4 linked regions of the Homo sapiens genome follow. The protein of the gene in region 1 purifies or fractionates together with the protein of each later gene. This does not show direct contact. Each region holds a gene or a part of one and is shown on either strand. Other genes may lie near its edges.

Evidence for each region.
Region 2: the proteins of LBR (region 1) and LUC7L purify together in Homo sapiens (affinity purification with mass spectrometry; 3 studies listed by BioGRID and IntAct, with this or other methods). This does not show direct contact.
Region 3: the proteins of LBR (region 1) and MAD2L1BP purify together in Homo sapiens (co-immunoprecipitation; 4 studies listed by BioGRID and IntAct, with this or other methods). This does not show direct contact.
Region 4: the proteins of LBR (region 1) and C1QBP purify together in Homo sapiens (co-immunoprecipitation; 2 studies listed by BioGRID and IntAct, with this or other methods). This does not show direct contact.

The regions. Positions count from the first base shown.
Region 1 is NC_000001.11:225,425,018-225,432,669, reverse strand, and holds the start of LBR (delta(14)-sterol reductase LBR), read left to right. Parts: upstream 1-4,631; 5' UTR 4,632-4,716; intron 4,717-4,777; exon of another isoform or gene 4,778-5,339; intron 5,340-7,652. UniProt on the Homo sapiens protein: Catalyzes the reduction of the C14-unsaturated bond of lanosterol, as part of the metabolic pathway leading to cholesterol biosynthesis.
Region 2 is NC_000016.10:198,417-205,462, reverse strand, and holds part of LUC7L (putative RNA-binding protein Luc7-like 1), read left to right. Parts: intron 1-6,224; coding exon 6,225-6,401; intron 6,402-7,046. UniProt on the Homo sapiens protein: May bind to RNA via its Arg/Ser-rich domain.
Region 3 is NC_000006.12:43,638,821-43,641,468, forward strand, and holds the end of MAD2L1BP (MAD2L1-binding protein), read left to right. Parts: intron 1-1,200; coding exon 1,201-1,713; 3' UTR 1,714-2,121; downstream 2,122-2,648. UniProt on the Homo sapiens protein: May function to silence the spindle checkpoint and allow mitosis to proceed through anaphase by binding MAD2L1 after it has become dissociated from the MAD2L1-CDC20 complex.
Region 4 is NC_000017.11:5,432,252-5,436,176, forward strand, and holds the end of C1QBP (complement component 1 Q subcomponent-binding protein, mitochondrial precursor), read right to left. Parts: intron 2,716-3,925; coding exon 2,622-2,715; intron 1,517-2,621; coding exon 1,418-1,516; intron 1,165-1,417; coding exon 1,042-1,164; intron 914-1,041; coding exon 764-913; 3' UTR 526-763; downstream 1-525.

The sequences.
Region 1 (7,652 bases):
AGTTCTTAAAGGTGGCGTGTCCAGAATTTGTTCCTTCGGATGTTCAGATGTGTTCAGACTTTTCTTCCTTCTGGTGGGTTTGTGGTCTCACTGGCTCAGGAGTGAAGCTGCAGACCTTCACAGTGAGTGTCACAACTCATAAACGCAATGCAGATGCAGAGTGAGCAGCAGCAAGACTTACTGCAAACAGCAAAAGAACAAAGTTTCCACAAAGTGGAAAGACACCTGAGCATCTTGCCACTGCTGGCTTGGGCAGCCTGCTTTTATTCCCTTATCTGGCCCCACCCACATCCTGCTGATTGGTCCATTTTACAGAGAGCTGATTGGTCTGTTTTGACAGGGTGCTGATTGGTATGTTTACAATCCCTGAGCTAGACACAAAAGTTCTCAAAGTCCCCACTAGATTAACTAGACACAGAGCACTGATTGGTGCATTCACAAACCCTGAGCTAGACACAGGGTGCTGATTGGTGCATTTACAAACCTTGAGCTGGACACAGAGTGCTGATTGGTGTATTTACAATCCCTTAGCTAGACATAAAGGTTCTCCAAGTCCCTGCTAGATTAGCTAGACACAGAGCACTGATTGGTGCACTTACAAACCTTGAGCTAGACACAGGGGGCTGATTGGTGTGTTCACAAACCCTGAGCAAGACACAGAGTGCTGACTGGTGTATTTACAATCCCTTAGCTAGACATAAAGTTTCTCCAAGTCCCCACCAGATTAGCTAGATACACAGTGCTGATTGGTGCATTTACAAACCTTGAGCTAGACACAGAGTGCTGATTGGTGTATTTACAATCCCTTAGCTAGACATAAAGGTTCTCCAAGTCCCCGCTAGACCCAGGAGCCCAGCTGGCTTCACCTAGTGGATCCTGCATCAGGGAGCCCGCCAGTCCCACGACCTGTGCCCACACTACTCCTCAGCCCTTGGGCGGTCGGAATGGGACCGGGCGCGTGGAGCAGGGGGCAGCGCTCATCTGGGAGGCTCAGGCCGCTCAGGAGCCCATGGTGTGGGGGAGGCTCAGGCATGGCAGGCTGCAGGTCCCCAGCCTTTCCCTGCGGGGAGGCAGCTGAGGTCCAGCGAGAATTCCAGCACAGCGCTGGTGGGCCAGGCCGGCACTGCTGGGAGACCCAGCGCATCCTCCGCAGCTGCTGGCCTGGGTACTAAGCCCCTCACTGCCTGGGGCCTGCGGAACCGGCCAGCCGCTCCGAGTGCGGGGCCTGCCGAGCCCACGCCCACCTGGAACTTGCACTGGCCTGCAAGCCCAGTGCTCAGCCCTGGTTCCCACCCACGCCTGTCCCTCCACACCTCCCCGCAAGGTGAGGGAGCCCGCTCCGGCCTCGGCCAGCCCAGAGAGGGGCTCCCACAGTGCAGTGGCAGGCTGAAGGGCTCCTCAAGAGCGGCCAGAGTGGGCGCCGAGGCCGAGGAGGTGCAGAGAGTGAGCGAGGGCTGCTAGGGCTGCCAGCACGCTGTCACCTCTCACCAGCACTTTGGGAGGCCGAGGTGGGTAGATCACTTGCAGTCAGGAGTTGGAGACTAGCCTGGCCAACACGGCCAAACCCCATCTCTTCTAAAAATACAAAAATTAGCTGGGCATGGTGGCGTGCACCTGTAATCCCAGCTACTCGGGGCTGAGGTGAGAAGATTGCTTGAACCCAGGAGGCACAGGCAGTAGTGACCCAAGATCGTGTCATTGCGCTCCAGCCTGGGTGACAGAGGGAGACACCATCTCAAAAAAAAAAAAAAAAAAAAAAAAGAGGATAAGTGCTGCAAACATACATATAGTATGTAGAAGAAGTTTCAAATAATTTTTAAATTGCTATTGAGATGGACATAATGCATCATGTTAATTGTGAGCTCCATTTCTGTGTGAATAGAAACCATATCAAACATCATCAGTAGAAATGTGTTTTTATCGGACAGCTTTTGAGGTACCTCTACCTTATGAATAAAGGCTTTCTGCAGTTTGCAGCATACAGAAGTTTGTTCCTTATGTAACAGTACCAAAAGAATCCAACTGGATCTCACGCCACGTGAAACTTTACCTACACGTCTTTCCTGAAAGAGATGTTTCAATCCTGGGAACCGAGATCCTCTGGAGACCAGAGCCAAATAACTGCCACATTGGAATGCATTCCGCTGGGGGTTCCTGTATTTTATATATGAAAGCTTCCTGGCCGCATGTGTGTTTTGGTTGGCTTTAGTGGCAGGACTGAAGGGTTTTGCTTTGCTTTTGTTATGTGAATGGGGAAAGGGGCTTTGCCACTCATGGCCTCATTAACAACAATGGTGCCAAGATGCGGACTTTTAAGTGACTTTTACTTTATAGATTCTGAAAACCCACAACTTGCTAGTTGTGAGTGACAAGCATCTTTCTGAGAACTTTCTGAAAATTCCCCACTTCCAAGTTTACACAGCCTTTAGTAGACTTAAAAAAGAAGAGAAAAATACCAAACAGTTCCTTTGTTGAGAAAGCAGCCTACATATAGATCTGATTGTTCATGGTATGTTTGAGTCCACGAAGTAGAAATGAACAAAAATTATTGCTTAGTTTTCCTGATGTCAAATCAGTTTTGTTTTAAAAATGTCATTAGTAATTTATTAGGTAAAATGTTAGCTAAGCTAACTCTAGTTAATTTACAAAGTTTTGGCTTCATTTTGTTATGATGAGACTTTATAAACCTGATCTTTAAAATAAGGTTCTTAAAATTTTTAAAAATTTATTTTATTTATTTTTTGAGACAGAGTTTCGCTCTTCTTGCCCAGGCTGAGTGGCAGTGGCATGATCTCAGCTCATTGCAACCTTCACCTCCCAGGTTCAAGCGATTCTTCTGCTTCAGCCTCCCGAGTAGCTGGGACTACAGGTGCTCGCCACCGTGCCCAGCTAATTTTTGTATTTTTTTAGTAGAGATGGGGTTTCACCATGTTGGCCAAGTTGGTCTCGAACTCCTGCTCAGGTGATCCAACCGCCTCGGCTTCCCAAAGTGCTGGGATTATAGGCGTGAGCCACGGCGCCTGGCCAGGTGTTTTTTTTTTTTTTTTTGAAACGAATCTTCTTCTATTTCACAAGTGGAAATCATCCAGGAAATGTGCACCTCAAGGGAAATCCAGTGAAATCTTGATTCTGGGTAGAACATATGAGAAAAGAATAGTGTAGCACTCACTGCTTGGCTATTTGGGATAGGATCTGTCTTAGGTCCCCATAAGCGCTTTTATTTCTGTGTAATTTACTGCAAAACTCTATGAGGTAGGACTAATATTATCTTATGTCAAGGGTTAAGACAATTGAGACTTGGGGGTTTGTCAAAAATAAAAGATTTTCTGACTTTGGAGTGCGATGTGCATTTCTGTTGCACAGATCTCCACCAAGGGCAAATTCGATGGCAATGACAATTTGATGTCAGAACTTCTCAGGAAAGGCTCTGATGAACTCATTCACACTGCATGTGAATGACTGAGAAAACTCGATGTATTTTCACTTTTTTTTTTTTAAGAAGTAAACCTGGGTGTTTTGTAGTTCTATGAGAAAATGAAAGCTGAAGCTAGGCTATAGATGAAAAGTTCTATTCATTATTACAATTTAATAATGCTTCCAAAATAGCAATTCACTTAAATATACCTAGTTAGGGTGTTAAGAAATACTTTGATTAAAACCACACTGCAAAATAGGGAACTTCAATGGACTGCTTTAAACTCTCGACCTCAAAGGAAGGAAATCAACTAACCGATAATGAAAACTAGCAGAAAAAAAAAAGCTTAGGATCCGTAACAGATTCGGAGTCAACAATGACATGACTCAGCATTTTGGGGTTCAATTAAAACCAGGCTTGTAGGTTGCAGGTCAAGTTGTGTTTCGGTGTGTAACGCATAAAACTTCTTGTTCCACGCTCCGCGGTGTTGGGGATTTTCTACTGCATCTCGACAGCATCTCGGGTAACAACCGAGCCCCTCCTCGCAGCGTAAGTCGTAGGAGCCCTCGGCCATTCTTCCCCCTCCCTCCCGCCGCCGGTCCCAGCATCGGTCCGGGTTCGCTTCTACGCAGGTTCAGCGGCCGCGGACACAAAAGCGCCCCTGCTCGCCTTCGATGCCGCTGCTTGGTCCAGGGGCTTCTGTGGGATTTTAACACGCTAAGGAGGGCACTCATAGTGTTTTACCGAGAAACGCTTTCGAGCTCGGATCTTTGGTGATCACTTCAAGAATGTATTAGTTTTCTTTGTAGCTTAAAAAAAAATCTCGTTCGCCAAGCCACCTGGCACCCCAAACACTGCTGCGAGCGCTGGGAGGGAAAGGGCGGGAGCGCGCGGGCTCCGTGTGCTGCGAGGGCGCCTGGGCGGCTGAGATAAGGCGGTGGCAAACGTCGCGCTCCGGGCCGCCCCGCCAGACTCGGTTTCCCCCGCTCACCGGCCTCCCCGCCCCCAGGCAGGGTGGGGCGGGGCGGACGCGCCACGGCGCGCGACCAATCGACAGCGCCGGGGATGATTCAAAAGGTCGAGGAGCCAATGGGAGCCCCGGGCGGCCTCGCCGGTGGGGAGGGGAGGCGAGGGGAGGGGAGAAGCGCCGCGAGGCGGGGCCGGGGAGGCGCGCGCCCGGCTTGCGGGACTGCGGGGCGCGAGAGCGCGGCCGGGTAGCGTCGCGCGCGTGGATCTGCCGCCGGGTTGCTGTGCGACTATTCTCCGGGAGCCGTCCGTGTCACCGCCGGAACCTGGCGCAGGTGAGTGCTTCCACCCCCGCCCTGCTCCCAGCTCCCCGCGGCGCGTTCTTCGAGGGGCCGCTGGGGGAGGAAGCCCGAGGCCGGCGCAGCGGCCGGGCCGGGGACCCTGGGCGCGGGGCCTGGCGCGGCGGCCTTCCCCTCCTCTCCTCGCCTCCTCGTCTCCTCCCCTCCTCGCCTTTTCTGGCCCAGTCGGGTGGTCGGGGCGGCGGCGGGCGAGGCTGGAGCTCGCCCGAGCCGGGCCCGCTGCGGAAATGGAGCTGGGGGTTTTAAACTGCGGACGTTTCCCTCCATGTTGGCGGCGCGGCGCGGCTGTGGAGCGGCGGCGGCAGGGAGGGTTCGTGGGCGCCTTTGTCCTGCCCCACCGCAGCCTGGCTCCCGGCCCCTCCGAGCGCCCGTCTGACAGATGAGCAGGCGGCCCCGCGGTCCTGCAGTAGGAGGCTGACAGGGCGCGGCGGCCTGGCGGGACGGGGAAGGGTCTGCGGCCGAGGTGGGCTTAGATTCGCGCTGCTTGTCACTGGCTTTGAGGGTCGTGGTCGTCGCGGTTTGGTGATTCTCCAGGCACACTGCATGGCTGCTCGCTCCTATGCGTTGAATTCCTTCGCCCGGACAGTCTCAAAAATCGGGTATTTAGGCGGGTGTGCGTGTTCCTGCTAAAGCACGGTCCTGCTTTTTCACCTTTTTGAGGGTTCAGAAAAATGTTCTAATGACAGCCAGCCTCGCACTGCCAGTAGCCTCAAGGGGCACTTAGTAAAGCACTTGCTTTCGGAGGGCTTTGTTGAAGGCGCTTTCCCAGAGTGATTACGGGGCCCGGTCGGGTGTTCACACGAGGGCGCGGTAGATACCGTGGTCCGCGCGTGGACACCTGCAGCGCGAGGCGCGGCGCCTGGGCAGTGCCAGGGTGAACAGGCCCCCGGGGACCTTGCACGTAAACACGTGTAGATCTGTAGTTACGCATTGTAGTAACTGGTGTGTGGGAGAAGATGGAGCTACGGAGAAGAGCAGAGGGATCCTAATTTAGATTAGGCAACAAGTCCAGTTTAAGTTTTGTTTCTCAGGCTGCCTGGGAAGAGGGAGAAGAACGAGCAGGAGGGGAATGATGAGCTGCCCAAGGATGTTTATGGGGAAGAAGGCGCTTCTGCCTTTACAGCCAGGAAGGTGGCCTTTCTGTTGCTTCATGAAGCAAAGGGCGCGGAGCAAGGCCCGGGGTTCCTGTTTGCATTTTGCCTAGTGGGGCTACCGGGGCTCAGGTGTGAAAAGGAAGCTGTCCAACGTCATTCGAGCGTCTTGCTCTATGCCACGTTTAGATGAATTTGGAGAAGTGAAGGAAAGATGGCTGGAGACCCCTGTAATGTTAATGAGCAGAGAATTGTTGTGTTCACAAACAGTAACATACCGGAGCTGGAATGTGTGAGGATTGCAGTGCCAGTTGACTCTGAAGTTAGCGGGCATCTGGCTTAATAGAGAAAAACCTGAGGGTCTCCGTGTTTTTCCTGTTTATGGCGAATGAGGACATTGGGTGCAGTGAACAAAATTTTTCTTTACAAACACACTTGCCTAAAACATCTCTTGTAAGAAAATCCTGTGTGTATCTTGACTCCTGTAGGTGAGTGCATAGTGAGTGACACGAACAAATGTGGGGCTTTTGTGTGCCATCCTGGCTATTTCACTCCTGTGGGGGAATATATTAGGATGTGATTGCACTGTATCCTCACGTTTGACAATTGTGTGTGGATCTTGTGTAAAGTGGGGGTGCACATCATGTTGTTGGCTTCATCTTTTGGAACATTTGTGTATAAGATAATGGTCTTCTAAGAAGAATGCCGGTTCATTTTGTTTGTTTTTCAAGCAAATCTTAATTCTTCTTTTAAAAAGTAAGCTTTAGAGACCTAACAGGTATCCACCATATGTGTTAACTTGTTTAACCCAGAATAATTGATAAGAATCTTTTTGGCACTGGCCTGCGTTTATATTACACAGATACTGTGTATGTGGTGTGTAAGTGCAATGGAAAGATGCCAGTAAATAAGTTTTTAAGAACACGCAGAAACTGTTCAAGGGTCTTTTAAAACCTCAAGTAGCCCCTGCGTCCTGAAGGGCTTGTGTTTCAAAAGTTTATAAAGAGTTTTTTGCAACTTGAGCATCTTCCTGTAGGAAGACATAATTGCCTTCTTTTAACTCTGGCTGACCAGTGTAGGAGAGCTAGTACTAGTAAGAGTGGTTTGATTTTGGGGGGCCTAGGGAGGAGGAGGGGGCTCAAGAGAAGAGAGAAGGAGGGTACATTTCCTTCCTCTTTCTTTGTACTTGGAGGCTCTGAGCTAAATGTTGAAATAGGCAAAGCTGGATGTTGTCACCTTCCGTTTTTATGCCCCTGCTCATGCAGAGGTGTTCACTGCCCCCCTGCTCCCTAAGTGCCCCTCGGGTGACTCAGCCAGGCCTGACTTCATCCCGAAAACTTGTGGGCTCCTCCCCACTACTCCAAGCCCAAACCCATTCATTACCCCAGTGATGCCCAATCTCAGGTAGGTGTAGGGAAGAAAGCTGCCTCTCTTACCTAATGTGTTAATTGACTGACATCCTCTAATCACCAGATAAGTACTTGTGTTTTCTTTCATCTACCAACCTAGCTGCCATCTCTGTAAACTAGTAGAGCTTGTTAAGTTTTTTCACAGACGATTAACAGTGAAAAAATGTGGTGGTTAAGAAAGGCCTCCCTCACCCCGCCTCCCCCCCCACTCTCCCACTACTCCCTTGGGGTAGGTAATTCAACTTTCTCCTTAATTCCAGAGTCTTCAAAGGTTCCTAAATGTTGCTTTTATTGTATCATCAGCTCTTAACAGGAGCCAGTGAGGAATGTACATTGATAGGCTTGGACAATACATCAAGAAGTGCTTAGTTGGTGAAATGAAGGTGATTTGGGAGACAGCTCATATCTGTCC
Region 2 (7,046 bases), on another chromosome or scaffold:
ACTTGTCATTATCACCCAAAGTCTGCAGAAAATGTTAGGTATGTCATGAATACATAAAATATATGAGGATACTAGTCTTTTATTTACTGCCATAAAATATACACAAGTCTATTATGAAAAGGTAACATTTGTCAAAACTTAAGCATATGGCCAGCTATGGTGGCTCTTGGCTTTAGTCTCAGCTGTTCGGGAGGCTGAGATGAGAGGATCCCTTAATCCTAGGACTTTTGGAGTCCAGCCTGGATAACATAGCAAGACCCTGTCTCTAAAAAAGAAGAGGCTACATGCAAACGCTTACAGACCATACATGACAGCATTCGCCGTAGAGAGATGTTAACAAACGTAGTGCAGAGGTGCAGTATTAAATCAGGGCTGCCTAAGAATAACTGTAATAGGTACTGTACTACTGTAATAATTCATGCCACTTCCTGTTGCCATTGTGTGGAGCTCAAGGGTCGTGAGTATCCCCTTGAAACACCACGTGACACTCATCATCTCCGAAGGAGCAGTTCACCTCTCCAGTACATTCCTACTGCAGTAAAAAGTGAACTCACAGGGTTCCTAGGCGTTTTTCATCGTGTTTAGTGCAATACCATAAACTTTGAGTAATGCCATAGGATCCATATGCCACTAGTGATGCTGAAAATGCTCCCAAGAAGGCAAGAACAGCCATGATATTACAAGAAAAAGTTGAGTTGCTTGATGTATACATTAGATTGAGGTCTGCAGCTGCAGTTGCTACCATTTCAGACGGACAATTCATCTTGTAAATGAGCAGTGTAAACGTACAGAAGTGATCAGTACAGCACAGTACTATAAATGTATTTTATTTTCTCTTCCTTATAATTTTCTCTCTTTTTTTTTTTTTTGAGATGGAGTCTCGCTCTGTCCCCCAGGCTGGAGTGCAGTGGTGCGATCTCAGTTCACTGCAAGCTCCGCTTCCTCGGTTCACACCATTCTCCTGCCTCAGCCTCCAGAGTAGCTGAGACTACAGGCGCCCACCACCACGCCCGGCTAATTTTTTTGTACTTTCAGTAGAGATGGGGTTTCACTGTGTTAGCCAGGATGGTCTCAATCTGACCTCGTGGTCCACCCGCCTCGGTCTCCCAAACTGCTGGGATTACAGGAGTGAGCCACCATGCTCGGCCCATGGCTAATTTTTTTTTTTTTTTTTCATTTCTAGTAGGGATGGGGTTTCACCGTGTTGGCCAAGCTGGTCTCAAACTTCTGACCTCAGGTGATCCGTCTGCCTTGGCCTCCCAAAGTGCTGGGATCACAGGCGTGAGCCACTTCGCCAGGCCATTTGATACCTTTTATGAGTCTTGTAATTTTTCTCATAGTGAAGATCTCATGCATGTTTTGTTAGATTTCTACCTAAATATTTCATGCTTGCGGGTGCTGGTGTAATTGGTCATTTGTTTTTTGGTTTTTGTTTTTGTGTTTTTTTGAGATGGAGTCTCATTCATTCGCCCAGGCTGGAGTGCAGTGGCGTGATCTCGGCTCACTGCAACCTCCGCCTCCCGGGCTCAAGCGATTCTCCTGCCTCAGCCTCCCGAGTAGCTGAGACTATAGGCGTGTGCCACCATACCTGGCTAATTTTTTGTGTTTTTAGTAGAGATATGATTTAACCGTGTTAGCCAGGATGGCCTCTATCTCCTGACCTCATGATCCGCCTGCCTTGGCCTCTCAAAGTGCTGGGATTACAGGTGTGAGCCACCGCGCCCAGCCCTCCCCACCTCCACCCCGCCCCCCGCCCTGAGACGGTCTCACTTTCTCACCCAGGCTGGAGTGCAGTGGCGCGATCTTGGCTCACTGAAGGCTTGATCTCCTGGGCTCATTTGATTCTCCCGCCTCAGCCTTTCAAATAGCTAGGACTGAAGGCACATGCCACCAAGCCCAGCTAATTTTTTGTATTTTTTGGAGAGACTGGGTTTCGCCATGTTGTCAAGGCTGGTCTTGAAATCCTTGGCTCAAGCGATCTGCCTAGCTCTGCTTCCCAAAGTGCTGGGATTAGAGTCATGAGTCACCATGATGCCTGGCCTCTTGTAATACCTTTATCTGGTTTTGGTATTATGGTAATGTCCCCATAGAAGGAGTTAGAAGATACTCTCTCTGCTTCTATTTTCTGAAAGCGATTGTAGAGAATTGGCATGATTTGCTCCCTAATGCTTTGGTAGAATTCACCAGTAAACCCATCTGGACCTGATGCTTTCTGTTTTGGAAGGTTATTAATATACAGATTCATTCAGATCATCTGTTTCTTCTTGTGTGAGTTTTGGCAGATTGTGTCTTTCAACATTATTATACTTTTTTTTTACACGGAGTCTCTCTCTGTTGCCCAGGCTGGAGTGCGGTGGTGCGATGGCTCGCTGCAACCTCCAACTCCTGGGTTCAACTGATTATCCTGCCTCAGCCTCCTGAGCAGCTGAGATTACAGGTGCCTGCCACCATGCCCAGCTAATTTTTGTATTTTTAGTAGAGAAGACGGGGTTTCACCATGTCGGTCAGGCTGGTCTCAAACTCCTGACCTCAAGTGATCCACCTGCCTCAGCCTCCCACAGTGCTGGGATTACAGGCGTGAGCCACTGCTCCTGGCTGTCTTTGAAGGGATCGGTCCATTTCATCTAGTTTATCGCTTTTGTGGGCATGGAGTTGTTGTTTTTAAGAGTTGTTTGTATTATTCCTTTAAAGTGGGTGGATCCGTAATGATGTCCTGTCTTTCATTTCTGATATTAGTACAGTCATATCTTTCTTAATGACAAGGATTAAATATTCTGAGAAGTGCGTTCCATGGTTCATCATTGTGAGAACATTATAGAGTGTGCTTAACAAACCTGGGTGGTATAGCCATGTGGGCTGTATGGTAGAGCCCATTGCTCCTAGGCTCCACACCTGTACAGCATGTTACTGTGCTGAATACTATAGGCAGTTGCAACACAGTGGGCCCCTAAATATTTGTGTACGTAAACATAGAAAAGGTACAGTAAAAATACAGTATAAAAGATAAAAAATAACACTTGATACGGTTTGGATGTGTGGCACGTCCAAATCTCATGTTGAAATGTGACCTCCAATGTTGGAGGTGGGGTCTAGTGGGAGGTGTTTGGGTCATGGGGGTGGTTCACTCATCAATGGCTTGGTGCCCTCCCTGGGATAGTGAGTTCACCTCAGAGCTGATTGTTTAAAGGAGCCTAGGTCCTTCTCTCTGTCTCACTCCTTCTTTTGCCATGTGATATGCTGACTCCCCTTTTGCTGCCTTCTGCCCAGCGTAAAAGCTTATGGAGGGTGGGTATGGTGGCTCATGCCTGTAATCTCAACACTTTGGAAGGTCGAGGCAGGAGGATTGCTTGAGTCCAGGAGTTTGAGACCAGCCTGGGCAACATAGGGATACCCCATCTTTACAAAGAAATTAAAAATATGGCCGGGCACGGTTGCTCATGCCTGTAATCCCAGCACTTTGGGAGGCCAAGGTAGGTGCATCACCTGAGGTCAGGAGTTCGAGACCAGCCTGGCCAACTTGGTGAAACCCCATTTCTACTAAAAGTATAAAAATTAGCCAGGTGTGGTGGCGGGCACCTGTAATCCCAGCTACTTGGGAGGCTGAAGTAGGAGAATCGCTTGAACCCAGAAGGCGGAGGTTGCAGCGAACAGAGATCGTGCCATTGCACTCCAATATGGGTGACAGAGCAAGACTCTCTCTCAAAAAAAAAAAAAAAAAAAAAAAAGCCTGGTGCGGTGGCTCACGCCTGTAATCCCATCACTTTGGGAGGCTGAGGCGGGTGGATCACGAGGTCAGGAGATCGAGACCATCCTGGCTAACATGGTGATACTCCGTCTCTACTAAAAATACAAAAAATTGGCCGGGCGTGGCGGCGTGCGCTTGTAGTCCCAGCTACTCAGGAGGCTGAGGCAGGTGAATGGTGTGGACCCGGGAGGCAGAGCTTGTAGTGAGCTGAGATCGTGCCACTGCATTCCAGGCTGGGCGACAGAGCGAGACTCCGTCTCAAAAAAAAAAAAAAAGTTATGTAAATGGAATCATACAGTAGGTAACCTTTTGGGACTGACTTTTTTTACTCAACATAATCAGAGTTTATTTTGAAAGATGTTAGAAGGTGGCATTTAAGGTTTCAAAACTATAGAAGGGGACAGAGTAATGTTATGAATATTTGTGTACCACAATATTGTTTTTGCTTAAGTTTTTTTTTTTTTTTTTTTTTTTTAGTTATGTAGCATACTATAATGGAAATTCAAGTTCTTGCTAGTTCCTTGTCTACTTTTTTTTTTTTTTTTTTCTCAGACAGAGTCTCGCTCTGTCGCCCAGGCTGGATTGCTGTGGTGCGATCTCGGCTCACTGCATCCTCTGACTCCCGGGTTCAAGTAATTCTCAGACTCAGCCTCCCGAGTAGCTGGGATTACAGGTGCCAGCCACCGTGCCCAGCTAATTTTTTTGTATTTTTAATAGAGACGGGGTTTCACCTTCTCGGACTCCTGACCTTGTGATCCACCTGCCTTGGCCTCCCAAAGTGCTGGGATTGCAGGTGTTAGCCACTGTGCCCAGCCTATTTTTTTTAATATTAGAGGGTCCTGCTGTCAGCCAGGGTCACCCAGGCTGAAGTACAGTGGCGCAGTCACAGGTCACTGCCCCTTCAACCTCCTGGGCTCAAGCAGTCCTCTCGAATCAGTCTCTTGAGTAGGTGGGACTATAGGCACGTGCCACCACAGCGGGCTAATTATTTTCTTATTTTTAGAGACTGAGTCTTGCTGTGTTGCTCAGGGTGATCTCAATCTCCTGGGGCCAAGTGATCTTCTTGCTTCACTCTCCTAAAGTGCTGAGATTATAGGTGTGAGTCACTACACCAGGCCTGGAATACAATTTTTTTTTTTTCCTTTTTGGAGTTTTCCTCTGTCCTCCAGGTTGGAATGCAGTGGTGTGATCTCAGCTCACTGCAACCTCCACCTCCTGGGCTTAAACAATTTGTGCCTCAGCCTCTCCAGTAGCTGGAATTACAGATGCCTGCCACCATCTGGCTTTTTTTTTTTTTTTTTCTTTTGAGACGGAGTCTCGCTCTTTCGCCCAGTGGCATGATCTTGGCTCACTACAAGCTCCGCCTGCCGGGTTCACGCCATTCTCCTGCCTCAGCCTCCTGAGTAGCTGGGACTACAGGCGCCCGCCACCACGCCCAGCTAATTTTTTCTGTTTTTTTAGTAGAGACGGGGTTTCACCGTGTTAGCCAGGATGGTCGTGATCTCCTGACCCCATGATTCGCCTGCCTCAGCCTCCCAAAGTGCTGGGATTACAGGCGTGAGCCACCGCGCCCGGCCAATTTTTGTATTTTTAGTAGAGACAGGGTTTTGCTATGTTGCCAGGCTCGTCTTGAACTCCTGGCCTCAAGTGATCTGTCTGCCTTGGCCTCGGAATGCTGGGATTACAGGCGTGAGCCACTGAGCCCAGCCTGTTAGTACCTTTTTTTTTTAAGATGGAGTCTCGCTCTGTTGCCAGGCTGGAATGCAGTGGCACGGTTTTGGCTCACTGCAACCTCCGCTTCCCAGGTTCAAGTGATTCTCCTGCCTCAGCCTCCTGAGTAGCTGGGACTACAGGCATGTGCCACCACACCCAGCTGATTTTTGTATTTTTAGTAGAGACGGGGTTTCACAAAGTTGGCCAGGATGGTCTCGATCTCTCTTTTTTTTTTTTTTTTTTTTTTTGAGACAGGGTTTTGCTCTTGTTGCCTGTGCGATCTCAGCTCAACAGCAACCTCCGCCTCCCGAGTTCAAGCCATTCTCCTGCCTCAGCCTCCAGAATAGCTGGGATTACAGGCATGCGCCACCACACCCGGCTACTTTTGTATTTTTAATAGAGATGGGGTTTCTCCATGTTGGTCAGGCTGATCTTGAACTCCGGACCTCAGGTGATCCGCCAGCCTCAGCCTCCCAAAGTGCTGGGATTACAGGCGTGAGCCACCGCGCCTGGCCTGGTCTTGATCTCTTGACCACATGGTCCGCCCACCTGGCCTCACAAAGTGCTGGGACCGTGCCTGGCCGCGTTTCTTAAATAAACAGTGAAAATTGAGTTGGTTATAAATATCTGAAGTTTTGTTTGTGTTTTTTTAATATTTGTTTAAAAGTCACCTCTGTCATCTTATCAAATATTTTCATTTTGGAGATTGAATTTGTGGTGGCAGTTCTATATACCTCACTTTTATTTCTCCATTTTCCTTCTTCAGGAAGAATACAGAAATTCCATGCCTGCATCCAGTTTTCAGCAGCAAAAGCTGCGTGTCTGCGAGGTCTGTTCAGCCTACCTTGGTCTCCATGACAATGACCGTCGCCTGGCAGACCACTTCGGTGGCAAGTTACACTTGGGGTTCATTCAGATCCGAGAGAAGCTTGATCAGTTGAGGGTATGTTCATCTGTTTCTGGAGAAAGCTGAGGAGTCTTGGGGTGTTTTCACATTTCTTTAATTTTTAAAAACCTTATGTTTTGGCCGGGCGTGGTGGCTGATGCCTATAATCCCAGCACTTTGGGAGGCCGAGGTGGGCGAATCACCTGAGGTCAGGAGTTCGAGACCAGCCTGACCAACATGGTGAAACCCCGTCTCTACCGAAAAATTAGCCAGGTGTGTTGGTGTGAGCCTGTAATCTTAGGTACTCGGGAGGCTGGGGCAGAAGAATTGCTTAAACCCAGGAGGCAGAGGTTGCAGTGAGCCGAGATCATGCCATTGCATTCCAGCCTGGGCTATAGAGTAAGACTCCATCTCAAAAAAAAAACAAAAAACATTATGTTCTGATCTCTAAGAACTTGAGTTTTATAGTGAAATACGCAGATTTCATCACTTGGATTCACACAAGAGACATGATAGCTCAGAGTCCAAAGGAGCCTTGGAGATTTATTTTGGACCCTGTCGTTAAGGGAAGAAAATGGCAGAGCCTGTTCCCAGAATACATACAGCTCGTTGTGTATCTCTGAAATAACTTCTGTTAGGAGATGAGAAAGAATCTCTGGTTGGTCAAGACAGAGTGTCACACATCCTGGCTCCTTGCCTATG
Region 3 (2,648 bases), on another chromosome or scaffold:
TGCAAGCTGTGTGTGCATGCCTGGGCCTTATGAGCTGATAGACTTCACTATAAGGAGATTAGGTGGGAACCTGGTGATCTCTTTGTGGGGATTGGAAAGTCTTCCCTCTGGATGGGGGAGAAATTTGGCAGATGATCTAAGCATCTTCACACAGATTTTCATTCATTTCCCCTATATTCACTCTTGCCTCTGTGGTGCCTGTATCACCACTTCCTAAACCTTTCTGGGGTTCTGCTGTGTGGATCAGTTTGCATCCCTTGGGGGTCCCTTCTGTCAGCACTTGGTATTCAGCTCTCTTGAACTCTTAACTCTTCATCTTCTTTCTTTTTTTTTTTTTGAGACAGAGTCTCGCTCTGTCACCCAGGCTAGAGTGCAGTGGCGTGATCTCAGCTCACTGCAAGCTCTGCCTCCTGGGTTCAGGCTATTCTCCTGCCTCAGCCTCCCTAGTAGCTGGGACTACAGGCATCCACCACCACACTCGGCTAATTTTTTGTATTTTTAGTAGAGACAGGGTTTCGCCATGTTAGCCAGGATGGTCTTGATCTCCTGACCTTGTGATCCGCCCGCCTCGGCCTCTCAAAGTGCTGGGATTACAGGCGTAAGCCACTGCGCCCAGCCAACTCTTCATCTTCTATCTTCCAAAACTTCTGTGTTTGCATTTGGCTAGTGTTGTGTAGTTTCCAGTTCTTTCCTCTTGGGAGTTTTCTTTGTCAGTCTTTCCTCTTCTTTCCTTCATTTGTTTCTTAATTTCTTTTCTCTCATTTTGTAATATTTCAGGTGGAAGTGCAAATAAGCATGTGTTCAGTTTACTATGTTTAAGTGGAAGAACAAGTTCAAAGTCATGTTTATTAGACCAAATAATCCTCATTCCTGTTATCACTCCCCATACAGCAAAAATTTGTTGTCACTTTGTCATGTCACCAAATTTCTATTTTAGTTGCTTATATCTGGATATCCTCCACCTTCAGAACACTGTGTTTGCTGTTCTAAATGTGGGAGAATTATGGTTTTGTACAAATAATATATTTTCCTTTTCAGTATAATACCCTCTGATAAAACACAGTGTTTTGGCTGTGGCGGTTCATTGAGCTAGAAATTAAGTCCTGTAAGTCTATGTACACATCCCAGCAGGGTTCTTTTCAAAGAGCATTAGCTTCCCCCTGCCTTGTTCTTCTCTCCCACCATTCTTTGTCCTCACAGGCAGAGGAGATGCTGAAGAAGAAACCTCGGGCCACCACTGAGGTGAGCAGCAGGAAATGCCAACAAGCCCTGGCAGAACTGGAGAGTGTCCTCAGCCACCTGGAGGACTTCTTTGCACGGACACTAGTACCGCGAGTGCTGATTCTCCTTGGGGGCAATGCCCTAAGCCCCAAGGAGTTCTATGAACTCGACTTGTCTCTGCTGGCCCCCTACAGCGTGGACCAGAGCCTGAGCACAGCAGCTTGTTTGCGCCGTCTCTTCCGAGCCATATTCATGGCTGATGCCTTTAGCGAGCTTCAGGCTCCTCCACTCATGGGCACCGTCGTCATGGCACAGGGACACCGCAACTGTGGAGAAGATTGGTTTCGACCCAAGCTCAACTATCGAGTGCCCAGCCGGGGCCATAAACTGACTGTGACCCTGTCATGTGGCAGACCTTCCATCCGAACCACGGCTTGGGAAGACTACATTTGGTTCCAGGCACCAGTGACATTTAAAGGCTTCCGCGAGTGAATGAGTGCTTCTTAATCCTAAAAACACAATGGCTGAATTATCTTTCTCCATGTGGCGCTGAATCACCCATCTGGTTTGGAGCTAGAGTTGCTTCCTGGTGAGAGAGGAAGCAACTCTCCTTCTGGTTGTCTGCCTCCCCTCAGATTTCCTGATAGGCTGATGGCATGTGGCTGTGACTGTGACTGTAATCATTGCTGAACAACATCTCTTTGAATCAAAGGTTGATTTTCCCAGAGGGTGCTGGGTCAGGCATTTCTATTAGGAGTTGGAAAGCAAAAATGGGTCCATAGACACTCTATGGAGGTGTCCCTTTCTGCTCTTTGCTGTGTCCTTTCAGAATTTTTACCAGGAACATAATGTGGATGTGACTTATGAACTTAAATATAAAATAAATAGATTCTTATTATATTTTCCTGAAATTGTTTTGACTTAACTTGTCAGGTTTTAGGCTATTTTGTCTTTCTCCTTGGCCTCTTCTGCTTCAGGGCTTCTCGAATTTTTTTTTTTTTTCTTTTTTCTTTTTTGAGATGGAGTCTCGCTGTATCGCCCAGGCTGGAGTACAGTGGCACAATCTTGGTCGCTGCAACCTCCACCTCCCAGGTTCAAGGAATTCTCCTGTCTTAGCCTCTCGAGTAGCTGAGATTGCAGGTGTGCACCACCACGCCCAGCTAATTTTTGTATTTTTAGTAGAGATGGAGTTTCACCATGTTGGCCAGGCTGGTCTCGAACTCCTGCCCTCAAGTGATCCACCTGTCTTGGCCTCCCAAAGTGCTGGGATTACAGGTGTGGGCCACCGTGCCTGGCCTTAGGATTTTTTTACTAATGATTTTTTCTCTTGTTCAGCCCCAGGCTAGTCTAGGAAATTAAGTGACTTGGCCAAGTGCATATGTAGTTTGATAGCAGAGTTAGGACTAGAGTCCTCATTAGCTATCTTT
Region 4 (3,925 bases), on another chromosome or scaffold:
GGTTTCCTGATGGTGAGGATGTTTGATTAGTTCATCTACAGGATTTGATCTTAGCTTGAAGACTATTGATGCTGATGGTTCCCAGGGCAGTTGTTTGAAGGCTGCAGGACAGAGGTCCAGCAATGCCAAAGAGGGGCGGTCATCATGACAAACTACACTACTGAACTAATTGAAACTGGACTCAGGAGACCTCATCTAATGTGTAGAATTCTCATTGATTACAACTTTTATCAGATATCTTTCATGACTAGAATACAATTTAAGCTAATTATTTTCCTGTTTAAACCTAGGCCTGTGATACTTGGGCTGTGATCCTCTAGAGCCAGCTTGGACTCACATCATTCTATGGGGTTGAAGACAACTCATTCCCTCTGAGGAGCCTTGTACATACAAGCCTTTTATTTATAACTTATTTTGTATTGAAACTTTTAAACAATACTGAAGAAAAAAAAACTTTTCCGACATCTGTTCTTGGTCTTTTGTGACGCAGGTTGAAGGGGGAGGAATAGAAAAAGACAAACTGCCTTGGAGGAGATAAACCAATTTTATGTCTATCATGTTATACAAAAATCTAGAAATAATAGATTTGTACAGAAAAAAATGATAATAAATGAGAACACAAAACATATAATTTAAATTTGGTATTTTTTCCCCCATGATATTAGGATGATAATCATTTCAAAGCACATGTCTAGCTTCAGAGTAGGATTTGTTCACTGGCCAAAGCCTGCCATGAAACTATGGCTTTCAGCATCTGTCTGCTCTACTGGCTCTTGACAAAACTCTTGAGGTCTTCAAGAAAAGTAATGTACTCCTGGTGCTCCAGGGCTGTGCTGAGCTCCACCAGCTCATCTGCAAAAGTGTTGTCCACCCCTCGGTCGGCAAGGAAATCCATTAGGTGGTCATATAAGGCCTGCAAAGAACAATATTTACTAGTTAAAAAAAAATCTGTAATGAACATTAAAATGCTTTTTTCTCCCCTTGAACTAGGACCCTTCCTTCCAAGGCCCAAAAGGTTCCCCCACCTTATCAAGCACTCACCCAGTCCAAGGAATCTGTGTTGAGTGTATAATTAGTATCCTTCCATTCAGACTCGCCAGTGGACTGAAAGCTAACTTCCCTGATAGAGAAGATGTCACTCTCAGCCTCGTCTTCTTGTCCAACCTGAGAAGAAACAATATTGGGAAACTGAAGGGTTCTCCAGGACAAGCTAGACTCAGGGGAAGAAAGGGGGCCACTGACAGCATGAAACTCATCAGGTTTTAACCCTCTTCCCTCACTCCCCACCTCTCTCCCCCTGCTGGGCTGGTCTAAGCTAGAAAAGTGTTTAAATTTCTGCTAAAATAGGGACAGGAAGTTCCCAAGGGACACACTGTTCCCCAGGGGTGCCAAGAGGCTAGCACTCCATCCTGCATACCTCATCCTCTGGATAATGACAGTCCAACACAAGGGCCTTCTTGCCATCATCATTCTTTATAACTTCAACCACGAAATTGGGAGTTGATGTCAGTTCAGGCTGGGGAAACAAGAAGTCAATACATGCTGCTGCTGGAAGGAGATGGATGGCTGGATCAAGGATCTCTGTTCAGAGTGTCTGATGGCCACCACTATTAGGATATTATGTAGCCATTTGAATAGTCTTATGCCATACTATTCCCAAATGAAGAGCTTGATCTCACTTCTGTTGGCACCCTGCTTGGTTAAATAACACACTGGGTTTTCAGTTAAGAAATGTGGATACCAGCCTCAGCTATGTGCCAATTAACTGAGTTTATATCAGTCCCTTAACATTCCAAGCCTTTTCCTCCACCCGTACACTGCAAAGCTTTCCTAAAGTTTCAAGATCTCTTTCCAGCTTGACTGTTCCAGGAGTCTTCATAAGGGACCAGGGTCAAAGGCTGGGGAACCTGGCCATCCTTATGGCTGAATAACAGCAGCAGCTTTTCCTCTGATGCGGAGCTCTGGGAGCAGACTGGGTCCAACGTCAGGGAGATGCTAGTTGGGGTGGCTGGGAAAGCAGCACACCAGAGAGCTGCGCCGTCCACACCAGGTCATGACCCAACACTGTACTGATGGCTCTTGGGCAGAATGTCTAGGGACTCTGTGGCCCTCATACTGGCTGGTTACTAGGCTGGGCACAGCACTTCCTGAAATGTTTGAAGAGTAGGCATGATCCAGTTAAAGTCTCTTATGCCCCTGCCATTCTCTCTCTCTTTTTTTTTTTTTTTTTTTTTTGAGACAGAGTCTTGCTCTGTCGCCAGGCTGGAGTGCAGTGGTGTGATCTTGGCTCACCGCAACCTCTGCCTCCCGGGTTCAAGCGATTCTCCTGCCTCAGCCTCCCGAGTAGCTGGGATTACAGGGACCTGCCACCATGCCCAGCTAATTTTTGTATTTTTAGTAGAGACGGGGTTTCACCATGTTGGCCAGGATGGTCTCGATCTCTTGACCTCGTGATCTGCCCGTCTCGGCCTCCCAAAGTGCTGGGATTATAGGCGTGAGCCATGCGACTGGACTTAGAGGAATTTTTTTTTTTTGAAAGACCAAAGAAAAACGCTCCTCCTCTAAGCCCCAGGCACAGCCTGTCAGAACTGAGGTAAAAGCTGATTATAGTATTAGCTTACCTCCTGTTCTTCAACCTTCTGCCCTTGCGAGGGTTCCTCCTCACCATCAAATGTTGGTGGGATGCTGTTGTTAATGTTGAAAGTGACCGTGATTCTAAAACGGCAAGGGAAAACAGACAAGGCAAAACAGACAAGGCATGGTTTTAACCGAGCAGGTTAACACATAAACATGGAAATCTGCTACAGTTAAAAAGGCGTATTGAAACAATGTCTCTGTCCTAGCTGGCTGAATTATATGCAGAACTTCAAACTAGGCTGGGTGCCTACATCCAATCCTGAGTGACTCAGCAGGTCTGAAGTGTGCCTACCATGTACCAGCTGCTGGAAGCCAAAGCTGGCCTCAGTTTATCTCAGCCAAACAAGTCATGCATGGGTTACTCCCAACAGGGCCAGTACCCCAGGGCTCACTGCCATGTGCTGACTGGGCATCTCATGGCCACAGCCAGCTGACACTGCCCACCCTGGTCTTTCCAGGGAACCCTTGGTCAAAGTAAGGACCTGAGAGGCTGGTGAGATGGAACAGAAGCCCCTTTAAGAGACTTTCCCCGTCAGAAAATTTGCCCTGCAAGGAAAGGAAGAAGCGATGGAGGGTGCCTCTGCTAAACACCGAGAGCAGCCCTGGAACGGGGAAGGGAATGCCTCACAAAGAACAAGGGCTGTAGTAGAGACTCATCCCTTAGAGTACTTGTGGGAAGTTTCATAATCACAAAGCAGGCCAGACACACCAACTAGTGACAATTTTAAGGTGCAAGAATCCACACCTGACAAATCATGTTCCAAAGTTTGAGTCAAAATTCTTGGGACATAAGGTTTAGAACCAAAACTGCTGGGCTATGCAACTCTGGCAGGCACCATTCCACACAAGAGTACATGAAGGCTGGGCGCAGTGGCTCACGCCTGTAATCCCAGCACTTTGGGAGGCCGAGGTGGGCAGATCACGAGGTCAAGAGATCGAGACCATCCTGGCCAACACGATGAAACTCCATCTCTACTAAAAAATACAAAAAAAAAAAAAAAAAAAAAATTAGCTGGGCGTGGTGGTACGCGCCTGTAATCCCAGCTACTCAGGAGGCTGAGGCAGGAGAATTGCTTGAACCTGGGAGGTGGAGGTTGCAGTGAGCCGAGATCACGCCACTGCTCTCCAGCCTGGAGACACAGCAAGACTCTGTCAGAAAAAAAAAAAAAAAAAAAAGAGTACATGAAGTGCCGCCCTCCACTTGTGCTAACTAGCTGCTCTGCCAGGAAGCCACCTTTCCATGGCAACAGAGGCAGTCTGAGGTTGACAAAATCTGTCTAATTCCAAC